4 linked regions of the Homo sapiens genome follow. The protein of the gene in region 3 interacts with the protein of the main gene of each other region in a biochemical or structural test. Each region holds a gene or a part of one and is shown on either strand. Other genes may lie near its edges.

Region 1 (7,985 bases), on a different chromosome or scaffold from region 3:
TAAGTAGCCGAGTGCAGTGGCTCACACCTGTAACCCCAACACTTTGGGAGGCCGAGGCGGGAGAACAGCTTGAGCCCAGGAGTTCAAGACCAGCCTGGGCAACATGACGAAACCCTGTCTCTACAAGAAATACAAAAACAAATTAGTCAGGCAGACATGGTGGCAGTGCCTGTAGTCCCAGCAACTTGGGAGGCTGAAGTGGGAGGACTGCCTGGGCCTGGGAGGTCGAGGCTGCAGTGAGCCATGATCGTGCCACTGCACTCCAGCCTGGGTAACACAGAGAGACCCTGTCTCAAAAAAATAGAATAATAAAATTTCAAAAAAAGCTACGTGTGACTATGGCTAGGATAGCAGAGCCCTAGATAATCCATAAGCTAAATAAGGATTGTCAGAAACTTAAGCAAAATAAGGATCTTCTTTTCCTGAACTGTTTATATGTTCAATTCAAATATCTTTGTTTCTGGTATAGGCCTGGTAAGTTTGACTAGTTAAAGAAATAACATGTCAGTAGATATCAATACAGTGAAAATTCAGGGGTAATAAAAGGATCAAAGTTAAGTATGTGGTCCACTGATATTTTATAAGGTCCCTAAGGCCAAGTTAAATTCAAACTCACATGAAGCATTCAGTACACATATCAGAGCTGCAAAGGTCCTTATCAGCATCCCTAAAGCATCTGTTTCTCCTCTACCAAATGAAAAGCTACTTATACAATTCAGATTGAATATCTCTGCATTTATCTTAAATTTTTCTACAGAAATTCATAGTTCTGTAAGCCTTTTCCCTCTTTCACACACACTGGTATCCCTGGCCATCTCAGCCTTTCCACTATAAACAAAACCCATGTACCACCCATATCTGAAGTATAACGCCAGACTCCTGCTTAGCTACCCCTGTAATATGGTTTAATTATGATGACTGAACTAATAGGCTGACATCATAGACTTTTACAGGCTGACCCCATGTCATCCTGATGTATCATTTTGCACCAGTTCAGTGCTGTAAATCAATTTAAGATCTCAAGCAGGTTGAAAAGGCTGGTAATGATGCTTTCTCTGCCGTCTCTGGAGACTCTACATTATACCCAACTTACATTATTTATAAAGCCTCAGTGATGCCTCCATTAGCCTTGTAAGACTACACAAATGAGATCTTTTATACACACACACTTGGCCTTGATTATGTAGGCTACTGCAGCTTAAACATGCTAGTCTAATTACTATACCCAAGCTACTTCTTTTTCCAATCTACTAGGTTATTAGATTTAATATTTAACCCAGAATTGCTAGAAATCAAAATTACAAAGTGAAATTTAGTTTTTAACTAATAAATGTAATAAACGTAGTTGAGAAAATGTGACAACTTCCTCTTAATGCCTTAATGAACTTAGTAAAAATAACATAAAATTCCAAGAAGTGTAAGAGGCCAATGTCTTTAATTGCCTAAAAATTGTCATTTCTCTAAAACACAAAGGTCATCAGCTCTTCAAGGATACGAAACCAAAGGATACTGCAAGAGGTAAAATGTATTTGGTTACATACCTATGGTTGTAGGGGTCAAAACTAAATCAAGGACAAATCCCTACCCTCAGAAGAAACTCGATCCTGCCTGGATCCTCTAGAGGCTCTGGCATCACCCACCTCCAGAAAAATCATCTCTCACGACCCTAGCTACACCTTCCTAAGAACTGCAGTATTACACCAATGATACACCACCTGCACAGAAATAGCAAATAATTGCAAATGGGAAAGAGAGTGGGAGAGGGCAGAACAAACACTTTAATCAGTACAGCATATTTAGATCTGGCACCTACATCAGAATAACACTGATGCAACAATATTTATACCAATTGAAAATGCTGGGGCAGTGAACACTTCTGTTCCGATTCTTTTTTAACACGGTCCACCTACCTTCAATACAATTTAAAGTAATTACAAACAATTTGAAAAATCAACATGGGCAGGGAACAGTTTTCTCATTGTGTTACTGAGGTGTGGGCAAGTTATCCACAACAGGCAATTAGACCCAGAGATGTTCTGAAATAGAGGCATTCTGAGATTTAGCGGCTGAGAGTTTCAGCAACAGGAAGAAATAACAGAAATCATGCAACTTCTGTATCATTCCACGTACTTTGAAACTTCAGATACAATGGAAAGAAAAGAGGGGGGAGGGCAGAGAAAAAGGACAGTTGTCTCAGCACTCACGAAAAGGATGCTTTCTCAGGAGATGGTTCTGAGACCGGCCTCAATTTTCAGAAGGAACGCGCCTTTACTGGTTATCTTGCACCGTGTATTTAAAAATTGCATGCTCTTCAAAATAAACAAAAGCTCAGCTACTGTAGCTGTGAGATCTGGCAGGCATTTGTTCCTCCTCCCCTCCTAAAGCACATCAAGAAAACGTTCTCCCTTTAAAGCCTTCATACAGTTTCAGCAACTAGAAAAACAAGCCCACATCTGTCTCTCACGCCCACCACCCCCACCTTCCTACAGAAACAACCCCGAGAAACACTAACAAAGACAGGGAGCAGAGTAAAGGAACAGTTGTTCAACCGCGAACTCACGAATACACATGCAGTGAGGCAATCGACTCCGGTAAAGGGAAAGGAACGAGACACCAGGAGACGCAGCGGGTGTAGGCGGAAGAGGGGGAAAAAATTACGCGCCGCCGCCAAACCTTTGAATAAATTAGAGGGGATCTCGGTGCGAACTTTCCTTGACCTCGACCCCAAAGAGGCTTGCTGGGGCCGAGAAGAAAACCCGTGCGGGATGTGGAGGGGCCCGGGGCGCCGGGGTCCCCCGCCCGCGAGACCCGCTCCACCAGGCGCCTTGGAGAGCAGCGCCAGCGGTCGTCCTCCAGCTCCCGCAGGGGTCGCCCCGCCGGCGCGGGGGACACAATGGGTCCGCGGGCCACGCGAACGGGCCTCGGCCCGGCGGCAGCACGGGAGAGATGTGAGGAGCGCGCGGAAGGGGAGCGCGGCCGGGGAGATCCCAGCGCGGTCAGGCCCGGGAGCCGAGGCTCGGGGGCCCGGGAACTGGGCTTCCCACAGCAGAAGACCCAACAAAGACACCAGGGGAGCCCGGCGGGCTGGGCGCGAGAAGACGTGGTAGCAGGTTCGCTCCTCCGAGCAGACGGGAGGCGCCATCATGGGGGGGGGGGGTCGCGGCCCGCCCCGCGCAGAAAGAGCCCCCTTCCCGCCGCTGCCCGCGCCCCCAGCCCAGCACGACCGCGGCGGCCCCACGCGTGCAGAGACGGCGGCGGCGGCGCTGGAAAGCCCGGGGCGCCGAGGGGAGGGCTGGGACGCGGCATGAAGGGAAAGTTCGGTTCGGGTCTGTTTCGTTTTACCGGGTTGGCGGCGCGCCCGTCCGTGTGGGAGCACGAGTGGCCGGGCGAGCGGGGTCTCGCGGCCCGGGTCCGGACGGCCGGGCGCTGCGCCACTCTCCGCTCCCCGAGCCTCGGCCCGGGTTGAGCCGCTCGGCCTCTCCTTTCTCCGCCCGCCCGCCTGCTTTCTCCTGGAGCCTGGATTGATCTGGTCGCGCTGGCGTCAGGGAGTCGGAGCTGCCCAGCCTCCACTCCTCAGCTGCCAATACCCGGCGCACTCGCCTGCCCGCCCGCCCGCTCACACGCTCACCCGCTCACCCGCGCGCCGCCGCCGCTGCCGCGCGACCAGGGATCCTCTCCAAATTCCCGGCCCGGCCGGCGTGAGCGCAGCGCGGCCGGGGCCGGAGGACGGCGCGGGGGAGCGGCCGGAGCCACCCCCTTCTACCGGCAGCCCCACGCCCCGTTTCTTCCTGGAGAAAAAACAGTGTGGCGGCGTTCAGGCTTTCCTAACCCTGCCTTTTTAGTCCCGGTGGAGCGGACTTAGTCCATTATCTGCAAGTGAATTTCGATGTTCCATATGTTTATTTTCTGAAATGTTCATTAACGCTTCCACCGCGCCCACTGAATCGTTCTATAAACGTGGAGTGCATGTTGACAGTTACCTTTCGAGACGCGCCCTTTTATGTCTATCTTTCGTTGCCCCTCACTCACTCTCCAATAATTTGCAGGCCCCAGAAGTTGTACGTACCCAGAATTGGATAGCCTAGTAAATACTGCACGTGGTTATACAAACCCTGAGTCAACAGATGCGTTTTGTGTCAACTCAGGATCCAGTGATTCGAGTAGGTAACCTTGTTGCTCCAAATAATGGCATGCCATAAGGAGATACTGCTTTAGAACTCCACATTTTTGGTCCAATTTCTACAGTCTTTTAGATGATGCCAACTCCCCCGCACTTAACTCTTACCTACCTGATCTGCATAGACATTGAAAATATCTTCTTGCAAGAGTCAACTTTTCTCTTGGCTAACTCTTGAAGCTGCATAAAATCTTGCATAATTACTATAATGTTGAGTTACGTTTAGAAAAAATGATTTTTTTTTGAGGAATAAATTTCACATGAAGCAAAAAAAAAAAAAAAAAAATCACTCCCAGCAATGTATATCAGAATATGTCTTCTAATTAAATTCCTTTTTCCCTTAACCTATTTGAGCACTTACTGGTCAATTCGTGGGCCTCATCTTATTTTCCCTAAAAGCAGCGTTTGACGCAGTTGATCATTCTCTGCTCCTTAGAACAACAGGAAAGTGAACCTTGTTAAATGCCACTCGGATCAGGCCACTCCTCTGTTGAAAACCCTCCCTTGATAAATAGTATAAAGTATCCCATACAAGAGAACATTATTCAGCCATAAAAAGGAATGAAGTACTGATACTGATGCATGCTACATGGATAACCTTTCAAAACGTGAAGGGAAAGAAGACAGACCACACATTGTATTCTTCCACATATGTGAAATGCTCAGAGTAGGCAAGGCTATGGAGACAGAAAGTAGATTGGTGGTTTGCATAGGGTTGGGGAAATGAGGAACCTGGGGAGTGACAGCTAAAGGTTATGGGGTGACAAAATTGTTCTAAAACTAGTTTCTGGTGATGGTTGCACAACTCTGTGCATATACCAAAAGCCATTAAATTGCACACTTTAAATGGGTCAATCATTTGGTATGTGAATTTTACCTCAAGCTATTAAAAAAAAAGCATGACAATGAAATGCAGTATATGACCTTGATTGGATCCTGAATGGGGAGGAGGAGCTATAAACTGTCATTTTAAAGTCGTTAATTTTTAAAAAAATCAAAAATGGCATTTATTTAATTTTGAGACGGAGTCTCGCTCGGTCGCCCAGGCTGGAGTGCAATGGCACGATCTCGGCTTACTGCAACCTCTGCCTCCCGGGTTCAAGCAATTCTCTTGCCTCAACCTCTCGAGTAGCTGGGACTACAGATACACACCACCACGCCCATCTAAGTAGAGACGGGGTTTCACCATTTTGGCCAGGCTGGTCTCAAACTCCTGGCCTCAAGTGATCCACCCGTCTCAGCCTCTCAAAGTTCTGGGATTACAGGCATGACCCACCGCGCCCAGCCTAGATGGCCTTTCTTAGTGCAGTCCTAGTAGTCTTAAATGATAACTATTAATATTATTATGTATGCAATAAAATTTGATTTTGCCCATTGTGCAAATTATTTCCTTAAATGATAATAAAAATTTGGATATTCTTTTTAAAAGGACATTGATGAGACCATTATAAAAACCTAAATATGGACTGTATATTAATATCATTTTATTAAATTTTTAAAAAATCCTCCCTTGGGTCCTCATTTCACTCAGAATAAAAGTTCCCATAATAAGCACAAGACTCTACATAATCTTTCCTTCCCCTCCTTTAGCACTCTGACCTGCACTTCTACTCTTCCTCTTGCTCACTTCCCCAAGTCACACTGGCATCCTCACTCTTCTGGAACAATCTGGGCACATTCTCACCTCAGTATCTATGTGCTAGCTGTTCCCTCCCTTTCTGAGTTCATTTTGTGTTGCTGTAATAGAATACCACTGATAGAGTTTGGCTATGTATCCCCACCCAAATCTCATCTTGAATTGTAGCTCCCATAACCTCCATGTGTCATAGAAGGGACCTGGTGGGAGGTAATCGAATCATGGGGGTGGGTTCTTCCCATGCTGTTCTCGTGATTGTGAATAAGTCTCATGAGAATCTGACGGTTTTATAAAGGGCAGTTTCCCTGCACACGCCCTCTTGCCTGCTGCCACGTAAGATGTGCCTTTGCTCCTCCTTCACCTTCTGCCATGATTGTGAGGCTTCCCCAGCCGTGTAAAACTGTGAGTCCATTAAACCTTTTTTTTTTGAGACAGAATCTCACTCTGTCACCCAGGCTGGAATGCAGTGATGCAACCTCAGCTCACTGCAACCTCTGCCTCCAGGGTTCAAGCAATTCTCCTGCCTTGGCCTCCCAAGTAGCTAGGACTACAGGCATGCACCACCACGCCTGGCTAATCTTTTTTTGTATTTTTTAGTAGAGACGGGGTTTTGTGGTGTTAGCCAGGCTGGTCTCAAACTCCTGAGCTCAGGTGATCCACCTGCCTTGGCCTCTCAAAGTGCTGGGATTACAGGCGTGAGCCACCGTACCCAGCCCTAAACCACGTTTTCTTTATAAATTACCCAGTCTTGGGTATTTCTTCATAGCAGTATGAAAATGGACCAATACAACCACCAGCTGGGCAGTTTATACACAATAAAAGTTAATTTAGCTCATGGTTCTGGGGGCTGAGAAATCCAAAATCAAGGGGCTGCATCTGGTGAGGGCCTTCTTCCTTCATCACAACATAGCAGAAGGCATCACATAGCAAGAGAGAGAACATGAGAGGAAGGGTAGAAAAGGGCCAAACTCATGCTTATATCAGCAATCCCCTCCTGAGATACCAAACCGCACTCCCATAATGCCATTAATCCATTCATGAGGACAGATCCCTGTTAAAAGAAAAACTTTAGGCAAATTAAATTTAACAGAGTTTAATTGAGCAAAGAGCAATTTGAGAACTGAGCAGCCCCCAGAACCAGAATAGTTTCAGAGCAACTCTGGGGCTGCCACAGGGTCAGATGATGTTTATGGGCAGAGAAAGAAAAGTGACAGAAAATGGAGTGAGGTACAGAAAAAACTGGATTGGTTAGAGCTAAATATTTGCTTTATTTTAACACAGTTTGAACAGTTGGCTGCCTGTGATTGACCAAAACTCTGTGATTGGTACAAGAGTTGGCTACAGTCTGTTTGCATATCCAGTTAGGTTACAGTTTGCTGTGTACAGAGAAACCTTTAGGCCTAACTTAAAATATGTATGGGCCGGGCGTGGTAGCTCACGCCTGTAATCCCAGCTACTCGGGAGACTGAGGCAGGAGAATCAGTTGAACCCGGCAAGCGGAGGTTGCGGTGAGCCAATATCATGCCATTGTACTCCAGCCTGGGCAACAAGAGCAAAACTCCGTCTCAAAAAAAAAAAAAAAAAAATATATATATATATATATATATGTGTGTGTATATATATGTATATACATATGTACATATGTATATATACGTATATATATATATATGGAGGCAGCTTTAGCCTAAACTTAATTTAACAGTCCTCATGACATAATCACCTCTTGAAGTTCTCACCTCTCAACACTGTTGCGCTGGGGATTAAGTTTACAATATATAAACTTTGGGGAATGCATTCAAACCATAGCACTCCCTGGACAGCTCTTCCCACAGATGTCCACATGGCTCACTCCTTCATCTCCCTCAAGTCTTCACTCAAATGTCTCCGTATTATTTAGCCAAAAGAGCAGGATTTTTGGTCTTCTGTGTTCATTGCTATAATCTCAGCACCTGAGCAGTGCCTGGTATTTAACAGGAGCATATTAAATACCTGTTGAATGAATGAGTAAGTGAAGCACTGTTCTAGCAGGGGATATGGTGGCAAGCAGAAAAAAATCCCTGCCCTCATTAAGGAAGACAGATAATAAATAAATACACGGCCAGACGTGGTGGCTCACACCTGTAATCCCAGCACTTTGGGAGACCGAGGTGGATGGATCACGAGGTCAGGAGT
Region 2 (8,162 bases), on a different chromosome or scaffold from region 3:
TTAATACATTTCAGCAGTACAGTATGGCCTTTTTCAGGTTAAGGTGCTGAGCCCAAACCTCAAAGAATCACTGCAAAAAGATTGGATCCCCCCTCTTCACCCCATTTCGTAATTTAGTTAGTGAGAACCACAACTGGCTAAACCTTTGTGGGGGGCCGGGCACTGTGGCTCATGCCTATAATCCCAGCACTTTGGGAGGCCGAGGCAGGCAGATCACAAGGTCAGGAAATCGAGACCATCCTGGCTAACACGGCGAAACCCCGTCTCTACTAAAAATACAAAAAATTAGCCGGGCATGGTGGCAGGTGCCTGTAGTCCCAGCTACTCAGGAGGCTGAGGCAGGAGAATGGCGTGAACCTGGGAGGCGGGGCTTGCAGTGGGCCGAGATCCCGCCACTGCACTCCAGCCTGGGTGACACAGCGAGACTCCATCTTAAAAAAAAAACAAAAAAAAACAAAAACAAAAAAAAAACCACCTTTGGGGGGAAATTATCAAATAAAACAAACTCTTTTTAGAATTTTACAACTTTTATGTTAGGAAAAAACAAATACATTTGTGAAAAGCTTAAAATCCAGTAAATGACTTGAGGGACTTGGGGCAATCCTAGGGTGATGAGGAGCAGGTTAGTAACAGTGAAGGACTTAGCACCCCAGGGGGCCAGAGGCTGTAATATACCTTATGAGCAAGTCATTCTTATTTAGTCTTGCCCATTAAGAAGTCTACTTGGACTAAATGCTTTTAAAAATGCCCTTTTAATTTACTATTAAAAGAATATTCCTAGCAGAAGTAGTCTTGGATGCTAAATTCTATTTTAAGAATAACTAAAATTAGAATTCTGTTCTTTTTATAACACCTGTTACACACACACCCCTACCTAGTGTGTCGGAATCAGTTTGTATGGGCTCACCAAAGCCTACTGTTCAATTTTCAGGAGTTTTGTAAGCCATTTGATGTCAGACAAGTGGCCTGAAGTTTGTTATGGTGGTGGTATTTACACCATGAAAATTGGCATGTTATGGTGGTAGTATTTACACCATGAAAACTGCTACAAATAGAAATCTTTTTCTTCTTCTCTTGGAGAGCCACTTGTTGAACACTTACCAGCTCACCTGTGCTTGAAAGTATTTCTTCAAATAAAATGAAAGCTGGTTAGCTTTGAAAATTTTTTGTATAAAAGTTTACACGGGAAAAAAATAAACTAATTTTTTTTTCCACCTGTGTTTTCAGGGATACGAAAAGACCGAAGAGGAGGGAGAATGTTGAAACACAAGCGCCAGAGAGATGATGGGGAGGGCAGGGGTGAAGTGGGGTCTGCTGGAGACATGAGAGCTGCCAACCTTTGGCCAAGCCCGCTCATGATCAAACGCTCTAAGAAGAACAGCCTGGCCTTGTCCCTGACGGCCGACCAGATGGTCAGTGCCTTGTTGGATGCTGAGCCCCCGATACTCTATTCCGAGTATGATCCTACCAGACCCTTCAGTGAAGCTTCGATGATGGGCTTACTGACCAACCTGGCAGACAGGGAGCTGGTTCACATGATCAACTGGGCGAAGAGGGTGCCAGGTAAGAATGCGAAGCGCAGCTTTTAAGAGTCAATAGCTTTTCAAGAACTTGTTGTGATGTCATGGGAGAAATAGTGGGGGAAAAAGAAGCAATAACATGTTATGTAATTGGTTTCAAGGTTACAGGAGATGTGTTCATTTTCAGTATCAATACACTGTAATTTTCCAGGAGATTAGGAAATAATATTTTTAAATCAGAATCTAGAAGACTGAAATTCTTAAATTGACATAATTTATTTTTAACCCATCTCATTTACCAAAAAGATTTAGGGTGGACACTACATGGTAAAACTATTTAATAGTGTATGTTCACAGTAGCAGAAACTTTTAACACTAAATGAACTACAAAAGTTTGTAATATTAATGACCTTTGTTGAAAACATCTCAATTATTAATCAAACGATTTTATCTTAAAAAGATTTTTAAGATTCGGTGTGGTGGCTCGTGCCTGTAATCCTAGCACTTTTTGGGGCTGAGGTGGGAGGATTGCTTGAGCCCAGGAGCTTGAGGCCATCCGGGGCAACGTGGCGAAACCCTGTCTCTACAACAAATTTTTAAAAATTAGCTGGATGCAGTGGCACACACCTGTGGTCCCAGTTATGGGGGAGGCCGAGGTGAGAGGATGGCTTGAGTCCAGGAGGTCAAAGCTACAGTGAACCATGTTTGTGTGGAGTGCCACTGCACTCCAGCCCAGGTGACAGAGCAAGACCGTGTCATAAAAAATAAACCACACAAAAAAAGAGAAAGATCTTTATGGATTAAAAAGATAATAATAAGTGTATTTACTGAATGCCAATTATTTATCCAACCTGGTGTATGCTTAGTGTTTTAGGAGAAAGAGAAAGGCAATGGAAAAATAAATTAAGGTATCATCCCTGAAAGAAACTTTTAGAAAGACACAGTGGCTGAAGTGATACCTTGTTCCTTCAGTTGATTCTCTCAGAACTGGTGTTCTGGTAAAATTGGACTGTTACTCCTGTTATTCAGGGAGAAGAACTCAAGTTTGTATGGCAACAAGACTAGAAAATGACTTTCTCCCTGCCCCAGTGTATTCGTTCAGGAGCTAATGTAGATAAACCGAGGCAAGAAGAAGCTAAATTTTTTTTCTGGGCTTATAGGTTAAATGAGTGATAGATTTAGTTGGAGGTTTTCTCATTTGGTTTCTTTTAATAGATGAAATTAATTGTTTCCTATGAAGCATGAAATGTTTTATATGAAACTAAAAAAATGTGGAGTTTGTACTTGCATTTCAAGGGTCACTGCTCTGTTATAGGCCAAGTGAACTTATGTCTGGCCTTAGAGAATCTTACATGTATTTGCATCTATCAGTATATAAACATGTGGGCCGTAGAATAAGGAGCCAGCAGTACCAGAACCCAGCCTTGTTAGAGGCCACCATTTTGGTGGTTGAGTGGTTATTAGTTTACATGGAAGCATGGAGAATAATAGGCAAATGTAGGTTTTCAGTGTCAGTCGAACTGGCAAACAAAAATTTCTGGTCATCTTCAGAATGAAAAGTTTTCTTGAGTACCTACATATTTTAGCATTTTCATATGAAGCAGATACATTATAAGTTAATTGTTGGAATCTAATTGTAATATGGCTGTAAGTTTTTTCTTTATATTTGTTATTGCCTTGTTCTTATATTATAGGGAAAGAGAAACAAACAAACAAGCAAAGAAACTAATGGTCATATATTTGAGAGCCAACTCTTGGTTGCTGTTCAGTTTTATTTTCCTGTAAACATATATTTTCCCTTATGAAATCTTGGGAATATTAGCTCTGGAGCACTGCTGAACTCAAGTACAGACATTTTCATGTGTATCAGTAGATTCCCATCATGACATTTTTATAATAATGTTGAAGAGCATTTTAAACAACTGGAATTAAGCTCAAATACATTACCAGTGGTTGAAGAATTCACATCAATAATCTTCTGAATTTAGGAATAAAATGGAGAAGTCAAGGAAAGGAAAATATTATACACAGGCTAGCAATAGTTAAAATACAATTATTAAAGCCAGAGCTAGACAAAATTATGGCAATGAGATGTGTAACAAAACCACTCTGTAACTTCATCATGTTCGTTTAAAAGACCTGAATGATTCCAAAATCCTTAGACCAATAAACTATGTCTTCTTACTTGATAATTAAAAAAAAGAATTATAAAGGCAAAAATGAAATTATATGTATGTGTGTTTGTGTGTGTTCCATGGGAATACAGCTGTTGTAAATCAAAGGCCTACTTGCCTGACCAAGCAGAATAAAAATAGTCATTGATTTTAAAGAGACTAAAAGTGAGGGAAGAAAAAAGTCTTCTGCAAAAGCTCTACAGATGGTTGTCAAACTTTTCAGAAAAATAGACAAAGCAACATTTTGAAAAGGATTTATATCTTTTATATATTCAAATACCATCTGTTATTTAAAAAACATAGCCCACACTGAATATCTGATATAGACAATATAACGTTTATGAGATAATAGTTTGAGAATGACAATAATAATAGTAAGTTTTAAAAGAGGAAATAAGCCGGGCACAGTGGCTCATGCCTGTAATCCCAGCACTTTGGGAGGCCGAGGCGGGTGGATCACCTGAGGTCAGGAGTTCAAGACCAGCCTGGCCAACATGACAAAACCCTGTCTCTACAAAACAGTACAAAAATTAGCCAGGCTTGGTGGCACACATCCATAGTCCCAGGTACTTGGGATGTTGAGGTGGGAGAATTGCTTGAACCTGGGAGGCAGAGACTGCAGTGAGCCGAGACCCCACAACTGCACTCCGGCCTGGGCAACAATGAGACTCTGTCTCTAAATAAATAAATAAAGAAGGAAATAGTAAATGTCATTAGTAAGAAGAATAGCAAAATTTCAGTTCTAGAAATACCCAGAATTAGCTATATGATACAAAAACCCTCATGAAACATTTGGATAATCCTCAGAATACCTATCAATATAACAAAAACTATGAATTGACTTCATTTTGAATGATGAATTTTTAACAAAAATAGTCAATACTTTGGGCTTAGTAGCTCTAGAAGTGCTTCTTTCTTCTTTCTTTTAATTAACAGAATATTGTCAGAATTTTCAAATGTTGATGATTATAAGTTGAATTTTCCTTTTCATTAACCCCTGGGGCTTATTTTTTGACTTGATATGTTTCTCTACTCAGAATTAAGATGTGAAGAGCTTTGGGATAGAATGCATCATACAAGTGTGAGAGTCAAGTTCCAATCCATAAAGTACTTCTGGTAGACCTGGATAAAGATGACCTTAAGAAATGATTTTTTTTCTCTTTGCAGTTTAAAAACAACAGTAGCAACAAGAATGATAAAACCTATGAAGCCAGCTCTGACAAAAGATGTTTTTTTTATAACACATACTATGTATCTACTTTTTGATATTTATCTATCGAGAAGACTTTTCTCCTTATTGTTTGCTCTGAAATTTGTTTATATTTAATAGGAATTTTATAGCCTTATCCCTGGGTAGAAATTCAGTTTTTTTAAAAGTAGATAATTAAATCTTAATTTACTATTATTTTACACATGGTGAAACTAGTCAATAAATGTAATATCATTGAGCTGAAGGTTAAAAAGGAAAAAATATGACTGCAAGAGTGGTTGTATTTTTGATTTCAGCATCACACTCAATTGCATCATTGAGTGGTTCATTCTTAGTTTCAGTGTTAATGAAATACATCTGAGTTTTTTTCCCCAGAAGCTTGAATTGTGTCACCAAAGTGTCATTTTGATTTATTGAAAGTTAAGCCCTTTCCAAAATTCACCATAATTTTACATGTCTCGAAAGCAATTTTATACTTCAAGTCTGTGCTATAGTTCTATATATTTTATGAAGATTTGGATAGATATCTAGCCCTGAGTTTTTTATTGCCTGTTAAATACTTATAACCCAAAGTGTAGCAGCCTCATGAACTGCTGCTGGGCACAGATCTGGGAGAGTGCACTCAGAGTGTTGGCCCAGGAAGAGGAAAAGAGGAAAAGGGGCAGTTCAGTGGCAGCTTGGCTTCCTGTGAAACATGTCACCTTAACCACTTCCTCATTCTTTTAGTGGCAAACTAGACGACCTTCTCCTTCCCCTTTCCTGCCGAGTCCCCCTCTAATCAACACTCTAGAAGGCCCCTCTTCCTCCTCAGTCCTGACTCCCTGTCATTTACTTCAGGTTGCCTCCTTGCTCAGTTTTGGCCCCAGGGGTAGGCAATCTCCTCTTTCTGGACATGTCTCCCACCAGCCCCAAGTTCAGATTTCTTGGAAGTTTCTGTGTTGTCTCGAGGATGCATGGTTGTGTGAGTTATTCCAGGGCTCAAGGCCTCTTCTGTGTCTGTATTCCCCAGGAATCCAGGAATTCACTTCTCTGCCTCTCATCCTCATCCTCATCATTAAAATGAGCAGATTTGAGCTCAGGAAGTGCTTGAATAAATGAATAAATGAACAAATGAAAGGTGATTTTTGAAAGTCTTAATTTTAAGAAGTCTCTGAGCCCTGTTACAGCTCAATTTTCCCATAAACTAGAACTGCTCTCTAAGGCTGTGACATTTCTCCTTTTTCCTCTCCTCAAAATCTACCTGCTGTTCTGATATCTCCCTGACAGCCACCATAGTGAGATTCTATTTCCATTTCCAATCTCTCTTTTGTAAGGGACAGAGAAACAGCTAGAGAAATATGGAGCCATGCGCTCTGAGGACTTTAGCAGGCTTCAACTCTATCTGCAAGTGAGTTTCACTTAGCGAATGAAATTGGAAACTTAAAGTGGGTAGGGATGAGGGTTCCCGGAGAAGGTGTAATACCTCAGTCTGGGAATTGGGAGCATCTACAAGGAACACACTCAATTCTGGGAGGTTCCTGTAGATTTCAGAGATTTAGCAGGGCTTCCCAGCACTCTGCTTCCCAACCTGTCATTGGACCAGTAAACCCTGCTCTCAAACTGTTGTGGTGTCCAGCATGCTTTGGCAAGGTAATGAAAGATAACATGACATGGACATATGGGTGACATCCTGGAGAGATGACAGAAGCCTCTGTTTAAGGACAAGATTTGCCATTTAGATTTTGCACCCACTGTATAATAAGAGCCTTAGGATTGGGCTGGAATCGCCCTAGCAGGCATGATGGCAGCCCCTCTGGACTGGCAATATGCAGCTTTTTTGCAAGTGTTCCATGTCCAAGTCACCCCACCCAGCTTTCTACTGCTCCCGTGGAAGCTCTGGTGAAACGCAAGGAAAGCAGCTGCTGTTGACTGGATTTTTCTTTCACATGAAACTTTGAAGCCTCATAGATGCTTATTGGCCTGGATGCTATTAAACCTTTAAAAATCCCTTTCTCATCTTGAGAGTATTTGAGAAACATGTCTGGGGCATTTTGCCCACCCTCCTCCAGGTTCTGTGTCAGTGAGTGATATGGTTTGCCTGTGTCCCCACCCAAATTTCATCTTGAATTCCCATCTGTTGTAGGAGAGACCCATGGCAGGTAGTTGAATCATGGGAGCAGGTCTTTCCCATGTTCCTGTGATAGTGAGTAAGTCTCAAGAGATCTGATGGTGTTAAAAAGGGGAGTTTTTCTGCACAAGCTCTTCTTCTCTTGTCTGCCACCATGTGAGATGTGCCTTCCACCTTCTGCCATGATTGTGAGGCCTCCCCAGCCACAATGGAACTGTAAGTCCATTAAGCCTCTTTCTTTTGTAAATTGCCTACTCTGGGATGTGTCTTTATGAGCAGTGTGAAAACAGACTAATACAGTGAGTCTGGGTCAGTGTGTGTTTATGTTGAACGTAGTGGACTTGTGGTGTCCCCAGGGCACCCTGTGGGGAATGTTGGCCTGTGGCTTTGCTACTTCCAGGGGGATTTGGCATGGAGAATGTGTGTTTTAAGTAATAGATAGATTATGATTGAAGTGTGTTATGGGCTGAGTTGTCTCTCCTCAAAAAGACATGTTAAAGTCCTAACCCCCAGTATCTCAGAATCTGACCTTCTTTGGAAATAGTGCCTTTATATAGGTAATCAACTTCAAGTGAAGTCATTAGCACAAGCCCTAATCCAATAAGGACTGGCATTCTAATGAAAGGGGAAATTTAGACATAGAAACAGACATGCACAGAAGAAGATGATATGAAGAGACACAGGAAGAGGACGGTCATGTGACTGGAGTGCTGGGTCTGCAAGCTGAGAAATGCCAAGGTTTACTGGCTAACATCGGAAACTAGAAGGGGCAAGAGTGGACTCTCCCCCTCAGAGAGAGTATGGCCTTGATTTCAGACTTCTAGCCTCCAGAACTGTGAGGCGTACATTTCTGTTGTTTTTGAAGCCACCTAGTTTTTGATACTTTGTATGGGAGCCCTAGGAAATTAATACAAAGTGTATTAAAAATAGAATTTTCTTCTATTGTATTTTTGAGGCAAAAGAAATAAGGAGCTATTGATTTAAGGAGGAAGGTTTGGCTCATCTAGTATAGACTTGGCTAATCATTTACTCTTGTATATTTCTCTTCTGCCTGCCCAAGTAGTTCACTGAACAGGCTTAGAAGTTGATTTATAATTGTAAGAGTTTACACATCAGAAGTTAATTTATAATTGTTAACAGTTTCATGCATC
Region 3 (8,162 bases):
GGGGAGGCAGGGCTGCTGGCACTGTTAAGCCCTCACTTAGCCTGCTGTTAACACCAGACGCACCCCAAAAGACGATCTCTCAAACCCAAGGGAAGTGTTGTGGAGTCACGCGAACAGGACGTGCAGTGGACTGCTAGCCATAAGCCTTGCGGAGTGACTGAGAAAGAAGCCTGTTATCAGCAGGGGCTGAGCTGGTTCATGTCTTCTGTTGCCCCATACACATGTGGCTCTCTAGTGGAGGAGGTGTTAGCCACAGTGATTTGCACAATCACTCACTGACAGAAAGCTGGGCCCCAGGATCCAACCATTTTCACACCTGCAGTCCCCACAGAACTTCCTTCCTGGCTCCTCTGTGAGGTGCTCACAGTGGAGCAATTGTCTCTGTTTCTCAAGAGTCCGTCCCTCTCCCTCCGTGAGGCTCCAGGACACACTCCCAGTGTCTGTACAAGGTCAGGTTAACTAGACCTTGGTCAGCCCGCTGCCTTTCCTCTACAGCAGCGGCGTGGGGTAGTCATAACAGACCTGGATGGCCTGTGAGGCCTGCCCTTCTGTGAAGAGCACTCTCTTGCCGTTTACAGAACCTAGAATATTGAGCTGAGCAACTTCTGTTGCTTTTCTTCCTTCACAGTTCCTTTCACAGTCATTTTCCCTCAGCCAGGTGGTGGCTTGTGAGCATCTCATCTCTGTCGCTTCAGGTCAGGCGGCAGTGCTGCCTGCTTAGTCTGCATTAGACACTAACAGCAAACGCGGCAAGCAGGACCTAAACACAGCCTCAGAGGGGCCCATGTAGTAGGGGAGAAAGACACACACACACACAACTGTGCACATTTTTAGTATAAAAGAGCTTCTGGGGTTGACGTGATAATTTGTTTTTCATCATTTAATCAGCATTGAGCACTTCCTTTCGCCAGTTAGGAAAGGAACAAAGATGAATAAAACCCAGGTTTTGCTTTCCAGCAGCCTCATAGCAGGAAATGTAAACAACAAGGAGTATACAGAGTCCCAGAGATGGACACAGGCATGGTGGGTCCCAGAGAGTAAGGCAGACATTAAAGCCTCACAGAGTGTGGCCGACTCGCGGCAGTTGTGCTGCAGCTGAAACCTGACAGTTGGGTTCTTTGCTGGTTGGGGAGGGGCACAGCTGTGTGGACCCTGGAAGGCGGGCATGCCAGACAGCTGGGCAAGAGGGGGGCTGCAGAGAAAGAGGCCAGCCCAGGCTGTGGCCCTTGCTTCCCCAGGAGGCCAGCTCTCCCTCACAGGTAGCTGCCTGACCTGAAGCAGTGGCTCAGGTGACTCTGGTGGCAGTAAGGATGCAGGAGGACCTCTGAGAGCAGGGACTTGGGGGAAAACTGGTCAGGCCACTGAAGAGACAGGCAGCACCGCAGGCACAAGGATGGCAAGACAGAGGCAGGGTTGCTCCTGAGGCCACAGGGCGCAGTTGCTGGCAGAACGCCTCCTGAAGCCAGCTTTGCAAGGCGGGGGACCAGTATCCCTCTCAGGTCCACCACCACTCTGAGAGTCCCGGCGTGGCAAGGACAGTCACCTCTGTGCGTTGTTCATTTGCTCCAGACACAGAAGACACACAGATGCTCCCTATGTGCTTATAGCATGATTTTTTTTCCCAACATTCTTTTAGTGACAGTTTTCAACTATTCTGAAAAGTTGAAGGAATTTAAAGTAGACACCCATATTCCCACCACCTAGATTATACAGTTAACATTAACATCTTACTTGTTTTCTCATAGATCTGTCCATCTGTTCCTCTATCCACCCATCAACCCATCGCATTTTATCCATTCATTGCAAAGGACGTTGCCAACGTCTAGACTGACTTACAATTTAGTCATCTAGAATATCACATGAATCCAGGGGAAGCTGGGGCTGGGTTGGCTGATTAAACTATGGGATAGGTTCTTTCATAAACATTTCATTTTGGTGATCACAACAGAATTTTGGGAAGTCAGCATGCATCCATGTTTATAATTGAGGAAACTGAAGACAGGAGCCTTTGAGCACTTCGCTCAAAATTGTACATCAAGTGGCAAAACTAGGCAGAGAATCCAGGTATTTTGGACCCAGAATGTCATTTTCTTGAAATGTTTGCCAGCATGAAACAGTGGCAGGCTGCACACTGCCTGTGATTAGCCTTGCTCCTTGGGAAAGTTCTCAGGACTCATTCACAATACTAAGGAGCATTGTCTCTGAGTTCCCAGCCCACACACTGGAGATCAGGAGCTCTGAATTGGAGAGCTCAGGAGGTAAAGGTGTAATAAAACATGGGAACACTGGGAGGGCACGGTTGACCGTTTGGCTGCAGCAAGAAAGGCTTAGAAACATACACCCCAGGACCACAGAGCACAGCTGTGGGGCCCCTTTGGTAGAGGAAGCAATGAAGTGATATTTGTAGTGGTGGCCGAAAGGTCTTAAAAAAGGGTCAAATTATATTCATTGTATTTTGCTTAAGGGGGTCAGTTTTAGAAATGTTTCCATGGGCAAGTTTAAAAGCTGATCATGCCTACTACCTGTGACAAGCCTCATTCCTACCCAGCCCATGTCCTCAGTCTCCTACCCTGTGAGGCGGGTGAAGGTAGAGGTCAGTGCTCAACTTCCTTCTTCATCTGCCTGATTGTGAATTTTCTCAGGTGGATTGATCACTAGGGGCATGAACCGCATTTCCCTTTGGTTTATTGAAGATGAAAGCATTTTAGGGCAGCTTTAATTTCCTGCCAACCCGTAGGTTTGGCTGCAGTTCACCTCTACATAAAAGAGACCACTTCTCCCTCTTAGCCCATCTCCAAGTCCACAGTTTGGCTATAGTTAGCCCATTCTTCTTGCCCCACCTCCTGAGTGGCAGATGGAAACCACAGCTCTGAAAGTGCTCTGTGAAATAGTAAGTGATACTCTGCTAGATTTTCATGCACTAGTGTTGGATATCTTACGGTAAATAAAGGACATCTTAGGAACACTGCAGTCAGCGTAGGCTGGGGGAGTGGCGTCTTTCCTATGAGTGTTGTGGAAACCACCTCAGAACTGTCTGAGAGGAGGTGCCTGTGGAGTGAGGGCTGACCCTGGCCCCTTCAGAACTGCCATGTGTTATCCTTGCCCAAATGTGTCCAAAGAAATGGCCATTTTGCAGGAGTCTTTTTTCCCTTTTCTGTTTTCATAATGCTATTGCTGCTGCTGCTGTTTTAATGTGGTTCACTGTTGTCACTTTTGTGTTTTGTGATGCTGATGATGATGCTGTTTTCACATGGCTCACTCTTAACTCAGTGGTCTGTTTGTGTTTCTATAGGACAAGGGCTCAGAGGACTGGACGTGCTCAGACATCGGTGTTCTTCTTCCCAGTTCTTGACCCCTGGTCCTGTCTCCAGCCCGTCTTGGCTTATCCACTTTGACTCCTTTGAGCCGTTTGGAGGGGCGGTTTCTGGTAGTTGTGGCTTTTATGCTTTCAAAGAATTTCTTCAGTCCAGAGAATTCCTCCTGGCAGCCCTGTGTGTGTCACCCATTGGTGACCTGCGGCAGTATGTACTTCAGTGCACCTACTGCTTACTGTTGCTTTAGTCACTAATTGCTTTCTGGTTTGAAAGATGCAGTGGTTCCTCCCTCTCCTGAATCCTTTTCTACATGATGCCCTGCTGACCATGCAGCCGCACCAGAGAGAGATTCTTCCCCAATTGGCTCTAGTCACTGGCATCTCACTTTATGATAGGGAAGGCTACTACCTAGGGCACTTTAAGTCAGTGACAGCCCCTTATTTGCACTTCACCTTTTGACCATAACTGTTTCCCCAGAGCAGGAGCTTGTGGAAATACCTTGGCTGATGTTGCAGCCTGCAGCAAGTGCTTCCGTCTCCGGAATCCTTGGGGAGCACTTGTCCACGTCTTTTCTCATATCATGGTAGTCACTAACATATATAAGGTATGTGCTATTGGCCCAGCTTTTAGAAAATGCAGTCATTTTTCTAAATAAAAAGGAAGTACTGCACCCAGCAGTGTCACTCTGTAGTTACTGTGGTCACTTGTACCATATAGAGGTGTAACACTTGTCAAGAAGCGTTATGTGCAGTACTTAATGTTTGTAAGACTTACAAAAAAAGATTTAAAGTGGCAGCTTCACTCGACATTTGGTGAGAGAAGTACAAAGGTTGCAGTGCTGAGCTGTGGGCGGTTTCTGGGGATGTCCCAGGGTGGAACTCCACATGCTGGTGCATATACGCCCTTGAGCTACTTCAAATGTGGGTGTTTCAGTAACCACGTTCCATGCCTGAGGATTTAGCAGAGAGGAACACTGCGTCTTTAAATGAGAAAGTATACAATTCTTTTTCCTTCTACAGCATGTCAGCATCTCAAGTTCATTTTTCAACCTACAGTATAACAATTTGTAATAAAGCCTCCAGGAGCTCATGACGTGAAGCACTGTTCTGTCCTCAAGTACTCAAATATTTCTGATACTGCTGAGTCAGACTGTCAGAAAAAGCTAGCACTAACTCGTGTTTGGAGCTCTATCCATATTTTACTGATCTCTTTAAGTATTTGTTCCTGCCACTGTGTACTGTGGAGTTGACTCGGTGTTCTGTCCCAGTGCGGTGCCTCCTCTTGACTTCCCCACTGCTCTCTGTGGTGAGAAATTTGCCTTGTTCAATAATTACTGTACCCTCGCATGACTGTTACAGCTTTCTGTGCAGAGATGACTGTCCAAGTGCCACATGCCTACGATTGAAATGAAAACTCTATTGTTACCTCTGAGTTGTGTTCCACGGAAAATGCTATCCAGCAGATCATTTAGGAAAAATAATTCTATTTTTAGCTTTTCATTTCTCAGCTGTCCTTTTTTCTTGTTTGATTTTTGACAGCAATGGAGAATGGGTTATATAAAGACTGCCTGCTAATATGAACAGAAATGCATTTGTAATTCATGAAAATAAATGTACATCTTCTATCTTCACATTCATGTTAAGATTCAGTGTTGCTTTCCTCTGGATCAGCGTGTCTGAATGGACAGTCAGGTTCAGGTTGTGCTGAACACAGAAATGCTCACAGGCCTCACTTTGCCGCCCAGGCACTGGCCCAGCACTTGGATTTACATAAGATGAGTTAGAAAGGTACTTCTGTAGGGTCCTTTTTACCTCTGCTCGGCAGAGAATCGATGCTGTCATGTTCCTTTATTCACAATCTTAGGTCTCAAATATTCTGTCAAACCCTAACAAAGAAGCCCCGACATCTCAGGTTGGATTCCCTGGTTCTCTCTAAAGAGGGCCTGCCCTTGTGCCCCAGAGGTGCTGCTGGGCACAGCCAAGAGTTGGGAAGGGCCGCCCCACAGTACGCAGTCCTCACCACCCAGCCCAGGGTGCTCACGCTCACCACTCCTGTGGCTGAGGAAGGATAGCTGGCTCATCCTCGGAAAACAGACCCACATCTCTATTCTTGCCCTGAAATACGCGCTTTTCACTTGCGTGCTCAGAGCTGCCGTCTGAAGGTCCACACAGCATTGACGGGACACAGAAATGTGACTGTTACCGGATAACACTGATTAGTCAGTTTTCATTTATAAAAAAGCATTGACAGTTTTATTACTCTTGTTTCTTTTTAAATGGAAAGTTACTATTATAAGGTTAATTTGGAGTCCTCTTCTAAATAGAAAACCATATCCTTGGCTACTAACATCTGGAGACTGTGAGCTCCTTCCCATTCCCCTTCCTGGTACTGTGGAGTCAGATTGGCATGAAACCACTAACTTCATTCTAGAATCATTGTAGCCATAAGTTGTGTGCTTTTTATTAATCATGCCAAACATAATGTAACTGGGCAGAGAATGGTCCTAACCAAGGTACCTATGAAAAGCGCTAGCTATCATGTGTAGTAGATGCATCATTTTGGCTCTTCTTACATTTGTAAAAATGTACAGATTAGGTCATCTTAATTCATATTAGTGACACGGAACAGCACCTCCACTATTTGTATGTTCAAATAAGCTTTCAGACTAATAGCTTTTTTGGTGTCTAAAATGTAAGCAAAAAATTCCTGCTGAAACATTCCAGTCCTTTCATTTAGTATAAAAGAAATACTGAACAAGCCAGTGGGATGGAATTGAAAGAACTAATCATGAGGACTCTGTCCTGACACAGGTCCTCAAAGCTAGCAGAGATACGCAGACATTGTGGCATCTGGGTAGAAGAATACTGTATTGTGTGTGCAGTGCACAGTGTGTGGTGTGTGCACACTCATTCCTTCTGCTCTTGGGCACAGGCAGTGGGTGTAGAGGTAACCAGTAGCTTTGAGAAGCTACATGTAGCTCACCAGTGGTTTTCTCTAAGGAATCACAAAAGTAAACTACCCAACCACATGCCACGTAATATTTCAGCCATTCAGAGGAAACTGTTTTCTCTTTATTTGCTTATATGTTAATATGGTTTTTAAATTGGTAACTTTTATATAGTATGGTAACAGTATGTTAATACACACATACATACGCACACATGCTTTGGGTCCTTCCATAATACTTTTATATTTGTAAATCAATGTTTTGGAGCAATCCCAAGTTTAAGGGAAATATTTTTGTAAATGTAATGGTTTTGAAAATCTGAGCAATCCTTTTGCTTATACATTTTTAAAGCATTTGTGCTTTAAAATTGTTATGCTGGTGTTTGAAACATGATACTCCTGTGGTGCAGATGAGAAGCTATAACAGTGAATATGTGGTTTCTCTTACGTCATCCACCTTGACATGATGGGTCAGAAACAAATGGAAATCCAGAGCAAGTCCTCCAGGGTTGCACCAGGTTTACCTAAAGCTTGTTGCCTTTTCTTGTGCTGTTTATGCGTGTAGAGCACTCAAGAAAGTTCTGAAACTGCTTTGTATCTGCTTTGTACTGTTGGTGCCTTCTTGGTATTGTACCCCAAAATTCTGCATAGATTATTTAGTATAATGGTAAGTTAAAAAATGTTAAAGGAAGATTTTATTAAGAATCTGAATGTTTATTCATTATATTGTTACAATTTAACATTAACATTTATTTGTGGTATTTGTGATTTGGTTAATCTGTATAAAAATTGTAAGTAGAAAGGTTTATATTTCATCTTAATTCTTTTGATGTTGTAAACGTACTTTTTAAAAGATGGATTATTTGAATGTTTATGGCACCTGACTTGTAAAAAAAAAAAACTACAAAAAAATCCTTAGAATCATTAAATTGTGTCCCTGTATTACCAAAATAACACAGCACCGTGCATGTATAGTTTAATTGCAGTTTCATCTGTGAAAACGTGAAATTGTCTAGTCCTTCGTTATGTTCCCCAGATGTCTTCCAGATTTGCTCTGCATGTGGTAACTTGTGTTAGGGCTGTGAGCTGTTCCTCGAGTTGAATGGGGATGTCAGTGCTCCTAGGGTTCTCCAGGTGGTTCTTCAGACCTTCACCTGTGGGGGGGGGGGTAGGCGGTGCCCACGCCCATCTCCTCATCCTCCTGAACTTCTGCAACCCCACTGCTGGGCAGACATCCTGGGCAACCCCTTTTTTCAGAGCAAGAAGTCATAAAGATAGGATTTCTTGGACATTTGGTTCTTATCAATATTGGGCATTATGTAATGACTTATTTACAAAACAAAGATACTGGAAAATGTTTTGGATGTGGTGTTATGGAAAGAGCACAGGCCTTGGACCCATCCAGCTGGGTTCAGAACTACCCCCTGCTTATAACTGCGGCTGGCTGTGGGCCAGTCATTCTGCGTCTCTGCTTTCTTCCTCTGCTTCAGACTGTCAGCTGTAAAGTGGAAGCAATATTACTTGCCTTGTATATGGTAAAGATTATAAAAATACATTTCAACTGTTCAGCATAGTACTTCAAAGCAAGTACTCAGTAAATAGCAAGTCTTTTTAAATGCTGCTTTATTTCACTAAATTTTGTTGTGAGGTGTCACTAAAATGCCTGCAAACAAACGTAACTGCTAATCTGAGAGGAAACCCTCTTACTAATCAGAGAAGAAACCCTCCTGTCAGAAACCTTCAGGGAAGTGAGCTGATCACACCTAAACTGGGAGTTTGCAATGGGGTATTTGAAGCACTGTGGGAGTATTCCACTGGCCCTCTCCCTGAGAGACTTAACAGTCTTCCCTGTTGTCCAGATTCTGTATAAGGCAATCAGAATAATCATCTTCCTTGTTCAGC
Region 4 (8,162 bases), on a different chromosome or scaffold from region 3:
AGGTTGGAGTGCAGTGGCACAGTCTCAGCTCACTGCAACCTCTGCCTCCCACGTTCGAGTGATTCCCCTGCCTCAGTCTCCCAAGTAGCTGGGATTACAGGCACCCACTATCACACCCAGCTAATTTTTGTATTTTTAGTAGAGACAGGGTTTCACCATGTTGGCCAGGCCGGTTTCGAACTCCTGACCTCAAGTGATCCTCTTGCCTCAGCCTCCCAAAGTGCTGGGATTACAGGCATGAGCCACCGTGCCCTGCCTATTTCTGTAACTTTTGATAAGTCATTTGATCTGTTGTTGTTGTTTTCTCATAGTAACAAAGTAGAAGTAATTTTCTGCCTGCTTTACTAGATAAATTAAGGGGAAAAAAATAAGATACGTAAAAATGTTATTTGTTATTAAAAAGAAAGTTGTTATTTTAAAGGTTCTATAAAGACATAGAGTGCTTATTAGAAATTGAGCTAACACATTCAGGAAAGGATAGGAAGAGTTTGCTGAAGTTCTTTCTTTAGGGATTCTTGTGTACCGATAGCACAGTTAAAGAGCAAACTCATACCATTTTTATATTTCTGTGTATTTGACTAAGCTTACTGGCTTCAATGATTAACTGTTATCCCAAATATGGATTATCTTTCAGCCAACTCAGGGAATCACAGCTACTGAGTAGTGTGTGTCAGATCTCTTGGGTGTGCTGGAGTGAGTAAAAGGGGAATGAATTACTGTGTTCATGCTGAGACTTAATTGAACGGGTATTCAGTTGATCTAGGTGATGGGCACTTTGTTACTTTTATTGTAACAAATTTGTATATTTAGTTGCTTTAAAACTTTATTTCATGCTTTCATTAGGCCTTGTGAAAAAGGGTAAAGAACAAAACACACAGCGAAGCTTTTTTCTCAGAATGAAGTGTACCCTAACTAGCCGAGGAAGAACTATGAACATAAAGTCTGCAACATGGAAGGTAAGTGAAAATTATTTGTGATTGATTATACACTTTATTTATACATAGACATTGTAGTATTAAGATAACTTTAGAATTGTGAGGGAAGGTTTACAGTTCCATGGTGTTTGGTTATGTAACATTTATATCTTCAACTCATTTGCATGTGATCTCCAAAATGCAGAACCGTGTAGTAATTTGCCAATTTGAGGCACAAACTTAAATTACGTGAATTGTGGCACTGGTGTTCCAGGCTTAATCAGTTGGCTTTGCCAGCCACACAATATTTGAATCCTGATAGGGCTTAATTTTCTATTAATCATGGTTTTATATCTTTGTTCAATGTTGAAACATAGTCATCAGTGCAAGAAATAACTATCAAACAGCCATGATGATGAGATGAATGAAAAAGCAGCCTAGACTTTATACGAGGGGAATTTTTTAAAGAGTAATGTATAGGCCCTGGGCAGGAAGTAGGTCATAGGTGGTATCATAGGAAAAATGTTCATTGATTTTCAAAAACGTGATTAATCCACTAGTGACAGTAAATTTTATCAAAGCTTACTGGCCATGTCAGACTCAACTACTTATCTCTGCTTTTTTTTTCCCTAGCATTGTAAATATTTTTTTTAACTGCTTTGTTCTTCATACACAGGTATTGCACTGCACAGGCCACATTCACGTATATGATACCAACAGTAACCAACCTCAGTGTGGGTATAAGAAACCACCTATGACCTGCTTGGTGCTGATTTGTGAACCCATTCCTCACCCATCAAATATTGAAATTCCTTTAGATAGCAAGACTTTCCTCAGTCGACACAGCCTGGATATGAAATTTTCTTATTGTGATGAAAGGTAAATTAGATCTAAAATGTGAATTTGAAATTTTTAATTAGTCTACAGCATTACTGAATATTCACCATAGCAAAGATTCAGCGCTGGCCATGCATGGTGGCTCACACCTGTAATCCCAGCACTTTGGAAGGCTGAGGCAAGCGGGGGGTGGATCATCTGAGGTCAGGAGATTGAGACCAGCCTGGCCAATGTGGTGAAACCCCATCTCTACTAAAAAATACAAAAATTAGTGGGACGTGGTGGCAGGCACTACTCAGGAGGCTGAGGCAGGAGAATCGCTTGAACCTGGGAGGTGGATGTTGTGGTGAGCTGAGCTCACACCACCACACTGCAAGCCTGGATGACAGAGCAAGACTCCCATTTCAAAAAAAAAAAAAAAAATTACTCAATGTTAAACTATACTTTCCACTAAATTGAACAGAATGATACATCCTATAATATTAGATTAACTTTGTAAATTAATTCAGCCACATTTATTGAACATTTACTCTGTACTATGAACACTTACTTTACTAGGTGCTATCCAGAAGTTAAGATGAGTCTTTTTTTCCCCAATAGGGGCTCTACTTACTTAGAGAATTTCAAAGATATGCAGTGTGTATTTTGAGCAAAGATAGATTACCTTAGGTTGGGGACTAGAAAGCCAAGTGTTTGTACATCTCTTCATCCTACATATTTTCCCTGAGAAGCTTCAACCTTGCCCATGGTTTCTATTACTATTTCCCACATTTCTTCCTGTAACTAATTCTATTTAATTGCCAACTTAATATTTCTATCTGGATATTCTTCTGTATTGTAAACTAAGTATTACTGTAACAACTGTACTACTACTGCCCCCAAACAACATCATCATCAAAAACTGCCTTTCTTCCTATAATGCTTATTGTGGTTTAATACACCACCATACACACATGACTCCAGCAAAACTTTGGAAGTCATCTGTAACTTTTCTTTTACATTCATTGGCTACATACAGTTGGTGTCTAAATCTTACAGATTTACTATCTACATATATCTCTTGATCCATTTCCTCCTTTCCATCCTTGCACTCCTGCCATTGAATTCATTAGCTCATTATTACTCTTGACTTGAGTTGTTGGCATAGCTGCCTTTTTGCCAACAGATTTGTACCCTTATAATCTTTCATCTAAGTTGCCAGAAAGTGGGTGTCCTAATGTGAAAATCAGATCATGTCATTCTGTTGTTGAAAATGCCTCAAATGCTTCCCTCCATCTTTGCACACAAAAATATTTTGTTTATAAAAATACTAGATGAGGGAAGTAAATTTTTCATTTATCAAAAGAAGATGTGTATTTTAGAAGACTGAAAAAAAATAGACCTACACAATACAATCTAAACTTAGCATGGCAAACAAAGATATTTATGCTCTGGCCCTAACTCTGTCTTTGGAATCAGATGTTAGATTCACTCATGGCTTGCAGCTCTGATACTTACAATGTGGCCTTGGCCTTGGTACTTAACTGTTGTAAAATTCACATTCCTTATCTATAAAATAAGAATCATGGCTGGGTGGGGTGGCTCATGCCTATAATCCTAGCACTGTGGGAGGCCGAGGTGGGTGGATCACCTGAGGTCAGGAGTTTGAAACCAGCCTGGCCAACATGGTAAAACCCCATCTCTACTAAAAATACAAAAATTAGCTGGGTATGGGGGCACATGTCCGTAATCCCAGCTACTTGGGAGGCTGAGGTAGGAGAATTGCTTGAATCCAGGAGGCGGAGGTTGCAGTGAACCAAGCTTGCACCACTGCACTCCGGCCTGGGAGACGGAGTGAGACTCCATCTCAAAAAACAAAAACAAAACAAAAAAAAGACCTCAGAAGGATGTTGTCAGGATTAAAGGAGTCCATTGAGTGCCTAGTACAGATAGTGAATGCTTCACTACTGGTGTCAACTTTAAGAAAATGAATATAGAAAAGCTAAGAATTATTTTAAGGTGTTTACTACTAGCATGTAAATGTATGATGGGACAGAGATTTCCATCCTATTTTGAGGAATTATTTTTTATTTTTTTGAAAACTTAAGGTAACAAAGTAGAGAGGAGGCCAGGGAGAAAGGAAGGTAGTGGAGCAAAAATGAGAAAGGGAGTGACATTCCCCTCTAGTTATAGCAGAAAATTAGCAAAATGATCATGACAGGAGGTAACAGTAAAGACAGCCAGCTCATATATCAACCAAGACAGTTTTGAGTTTGACCAGCAGACTGTTATTTTCTGGTTTAGAGCTCTTTCCAGGAACTTCTTGCATCTATAACCCCTGAGAACCAAGCTATGGAAAAAATTTTGCTCAATTTTAAGAAAATCTAACATATCAAGCTCCTCAACTCCAAAATATTCCACAAATAGCTGCTATTTACTATACTGAGTAATAATCATTTAAAATTATTCAACACTTTATTTGAGCATCTACTATGTTCATGGCACTAAAGTAGAAATGAAGATGAACAGTTCCTGCCTCAAAATAAATGAGTAGTATACTGCTTTAGATCATGGGTTTCCTAGTCCATTAAAAACACTTTTTGGTCATATTTTCTGGACACCCCGACCCTTTTGGTATAGAATATAACCTATGTAATTCTCTAAAGTTAAATTAACCTCACTTTTCTTGCTCTAATATGTGTAAAACTGACCTTCTAGGAAAGCATATACAGTTTATATTTTTGACTTCTTGGTATCTTTTAGTGATAGACATACCTCAGATTGAGAAGCACTGATTGACATTAGATTAAATCAGAGCTTCCTATGACAATATAAACAATACCTTCATTAATCTGATCCCCCTACCTACTTCTTCAGCATCATCTCATATCTGTCTCCACTAATCATATTATAGAATCTTTGTTACCTGCACCATGTTAAGCATTTTTAAAAATCTTTTGTTTATACCATACCTTTTTCCTGAAAGCGGTTTTGCCTTTCCTTTGTCTCTAGTCATAAGTCTCCTATAAGAGGCTGTTCCTCATTCTACCATTCCTTTGCATGGATAGGATTCCATGGAATAGATTCTCATCACTGCATTTATCACATTATTTCCTAAGTAGTACAGTACATCTACTGGAAGATTAGCCACGTATTGAGTTTTGTCTTTGCATTTTCATGCCTAGAATAATGCCGGGCACACATAGGCATATTAAGATTTGAATAGTGAAAAAGTTTTTAATTCCATGGGGATTTTATTTAAACAGAAAAATATAAGACCAATTAGAATTATTTTTAAAGCATAATTTCAAGAAATATGACTGATTTTGTTTAAAAACATGTTTTCCTTTATAATGCTGCCACCTGGTGTTGCTGTGTTTAGAGATGTCCCTTTGTAAAGAATTGAGGGTTTGAGTTGAGTTTGGTTTGGTTTTTGGCAAATCAGCTTTTCCTTTGTATATTTATTTTGTAATAAACTATGGAAGATCTTGCCTTTAAGTGTGAGAACACAAGCAATGTTACTTTTATACCTTTATAGAATATCTTGCCTATGTCCTTCCTGTAGTTAGGTAGGGTTTTTTTTTTGACACACAGCATGTTATATAAGGTTTGCTTGCACCTCGGTAGGAAAGTCCTCTGAAATCTAAAGGCTGAGAATCTAAAAGCTTAACTCATGTTTTGCTCCTAGAAAGACTTGAGAAGAGAGTATTTCTGTTCAGCATGGTACTAAGAAGACAGCTTTCTCTTCCTCATGTCATGGTTGCCATTTCATACTGCTTACAGAGAATAAGATCTAGTCTCTGTCTTAAATAAAGGTCTACTCTCTGCCAGCGAGCTAGATAGGGTAATTGGATTGTTTTCCAATCTATTTTCATTTGAAATATTGTTTTATCTGAAATTACTCCCATAATTTCATGTAATGCCAAAAACTAAACTAAGTACAAGAGCATCTTCAAAAACCAACATAATTCCTTTAGTTCCCATTTAGTGTAGATGCTCTTTGGTTGATGATATTAGAATTGTGTAATGGCTATTGATCTCTCAAAGTGAGGTGTTGCCTAGGGGCTTAAAAGTTACTACATAAAGAATTTGGCTTTATGAAGAAATGTTACAGATTTTATCTATATTTTAAAATAAGTGTAAGTGACTACCTTTATAACTTTTACCATGTAGTTTAGTAGTATTTCTTATCTGTTTATTAATACCCTGCCTTGTTACCAAAAGTATGTATAATGAGATGTAATAAGAATAGGTAACAAGTAGGCTGGGCACGTTGGCTCATGCCTGTAATCCCAGTACTTTGGGAGGCCAAGGCGGGTGAATTACCTGAGTTCAGGAGTTCAAGACGAGCCTGACCAACATGGAGAAACCCCATCCCTACTAAAAATACAAAATTAGCTGGGCATGGTGGCACATGCCTGTAATCCCAGCTACTTGGGAGGCTGAGGCAGGGGAATCGCTTGAACCTAGGAGGTGGAGGTTGCGGTGAGCCAAGATCACACCTCATTGTGCTCTCCAGCCTGAGCAACACGAGGGAAACTCTTGTCTCAAAAAAAAAGACCAGGTAACAAGTTTGGGTGAACAGGATTAAAGAGTTAAATAACAGGAGGAATCTAGAGGACTTAAAGAAATGTGTGGTGTTGGATTTAATAACTGTAGTTGCCAAAGGTGAGGTGTAAATTTATTCTAAGCAAAGGAGGATGCTCATTTTTGAAAATTCACTTGTCCATAAGATTAATGCCTATCAGTTAACTTGGGAGGAGAAAAATTTTTCTTTATCAGTGTCTCCCTTTTTTTTCTTAAATCTTGTATTTTTTACTAACAGAATTACCGAATTGATGGGATATGAGCCAGAAGAACTTTTAGGCCGCTCAATTTATGAATATTATCATGCTTTGGACTCTGATCATCTGACCAAAACTCATCATGATAGTAAGTACAATGGAAGAACTCAGAGATATTCTAATTACTTAACTGTTGCAACCTCTGTACAGTTTGGCTACCCATCTAATTCTCTGGTTAAAAGTTCTAGACTAAATGTGTTAACAGGCCTATTCAGTAGAGATCTTGACCATTTTGTGTTTTGTATGTGTTGCAACAAATATCAGTAAAAATAGAATCATTTAATCATAGAAAAAACTTCCTGGCATTTTAAATACAAAGACTTTTGAAAATCCAAATATTATAGAGTATTGAATAGCATAATTTTCAGAATTCACATAAATACTCAGAACAGTGGTTGGTATGTAAAAGGCACTCAGAAAGTATTTGTACAATCAATGAATGTGAAGGTGGTGAACATCACCTTTGGTAATAAGTACCATTTTAAAAAATGCTTATAAGTGCATAGTTAGGTATTTATATTTATGGGTTCATGAAATATTTTGATATAGGCATGCAGTGCATAAGGATAAATGGAGTACCTATCACCTCAAGCATTATCTTGTGTGACAAACAATCCAGTTATACTCTTTTGGTTATTTTTATTTTATTTTATTTTATTTTTTTCTTTTGAGACAGGATCTCACTCTCGCCCAGGCTGGAGTGCAGTGGAGCAATCTCAGCTCACTGCAACCCCCGCCTACCGGGTTCAAGAGATTCTCCTGCCTCATCCTCCCAAGTAGCTGGGATTATAAGCATGTACCACCATGCCTGGCTAATTTTTGTATTTTTAGTATAGACAGGGTTTTGCCATGTTGGCCAGGCTGGTCTCGAACTCCTGACCTCAGGTTATCCACCTGCCTTGGCACCCGGCCTCTTTTAGTTTCTTTAAAATGTACAATTAAATTATTTTTTACTATAGTCACCCAAAACAAGTACCTTTGACATAAGATTTGATTCTGAATTTTACTCAAATGAATGTTAAGATCCCCAAGATAAGTTAAACTTTGGACTATCTCACCTGTTTAATCTGTACCTATGCATGACTTCCCACTGTGCTTGAGGATACCTGAATATCACTGAGTTTGTGTGACTGATCAGCCTTGAACTCAAGAGTAAATCCAAGTCTGCAGTCAGGACACCCCAATCCTCAAAATAATACCATCATTAGCATTTATTTAGTACTTTCTCCCAAATCAGTATTTAATTTAAATTGCCAAAAGACTTACAATGTGGTATCAATTTATATTTAAATATGCTACATATAGCTTTTTAAAGCATCTTTGGTTCTCTGGAAACCATAGTCAGAATTTAAGGAAGTTATTGTGGCACCATTTTCTTGAAAAAGGCTATTGATTATTCTCTAATCTGACACCAACCTAAGTCATTAAAGGAATTTTAGTTACTGAAGATTGTATATTCATGAACTCTTCACTTAGCTCACTGGCAGCAAAGGAGTTTTATTTAGGGGGTTTGAAAAAGGAAATGGGTACATTTTCAGCTATTCTGGGACGCACTGTCAGAATGTAAGCAGTTACAACTGATTCCACT

What was found.
Region 1: of the proteins of MAPK1 (region 3) and SMAD1, one has a biochemical effect on the other in vitro, tested with the Homo sapiens proteins (3 studies listed by BioGRID).
Region 2: of the proteins of MAPK1 (region 3) and ESR1, one has a biochemical effect on the other in vitro, tested with the Homo sapiens proteins (3 studies listed by BioGRID, with this or other methods).
Region 4: of the proteins of MAPK1 (region 3) and HIF1A, one has a biochemical effect on the other in vitro, tested with the Homo sapiens proteins (3 studies listed by BioGRID).

What each region holds. Positions count from the first base shown.
Region 1 is NC_000004.12:145,477,396-145,485,380, reverse strand, and holds the start of SMAD1 (mothers against decapentaplegic homolog 1), read right to left. Parts: upstream 3,529-7,985; 5' UTR 3,343-3,528; intron 3,048-3,342; exon of another isoform or gene 2,205-3,047; intron 2,156-2,204; exon of another isoform or gene 617-2,155; intron 1-616. UniProt on the Homo sapiens protein: Transcriptional modulator that plays a role in various cellular processes, including embryonic development, cell differentiation, and tissue homeostasis.
Region 2 is NC_000006.12:151,942,946-151,951,107, forward strand, and holds part of ESR1 (estrogen receptor), read left to right. Parts: intron 1-1,227; coding exon 1,228-1,563; intron 1,564-8,162.
Region 3 is NC_000022.11:21,759,371-21,767,532, reverse strand, and holds the end of MAPK1 (mitogen-activated protein kinase 1), read left to right. Parts: intron 1-3,292; 3' UTR 3,293-7,876; downstream 7,877-8,162. UniProt on the Homo sapiens protein: Serine/threonine kinase which acts as an essential component of the MAP kinase signal transduction pathway. MAPK1/ERK2 and MAPK3/ERK1 are the 2 MAPKs which play an important role in the MAPK/ERK cascade.
Region 4 is NC_000014.9:61,725,863-61,734,024, forward strand, and holds part of HIF1A (hypoxia-inducible factor 1-alpha), read left to right. Parts: intron 1-843; coding exon 844-956; intron 957-1,590; coding exon 1,591-1,793; intron 1,794-6,555; coding exon 6,556-6,662; intron 6,663-8,162.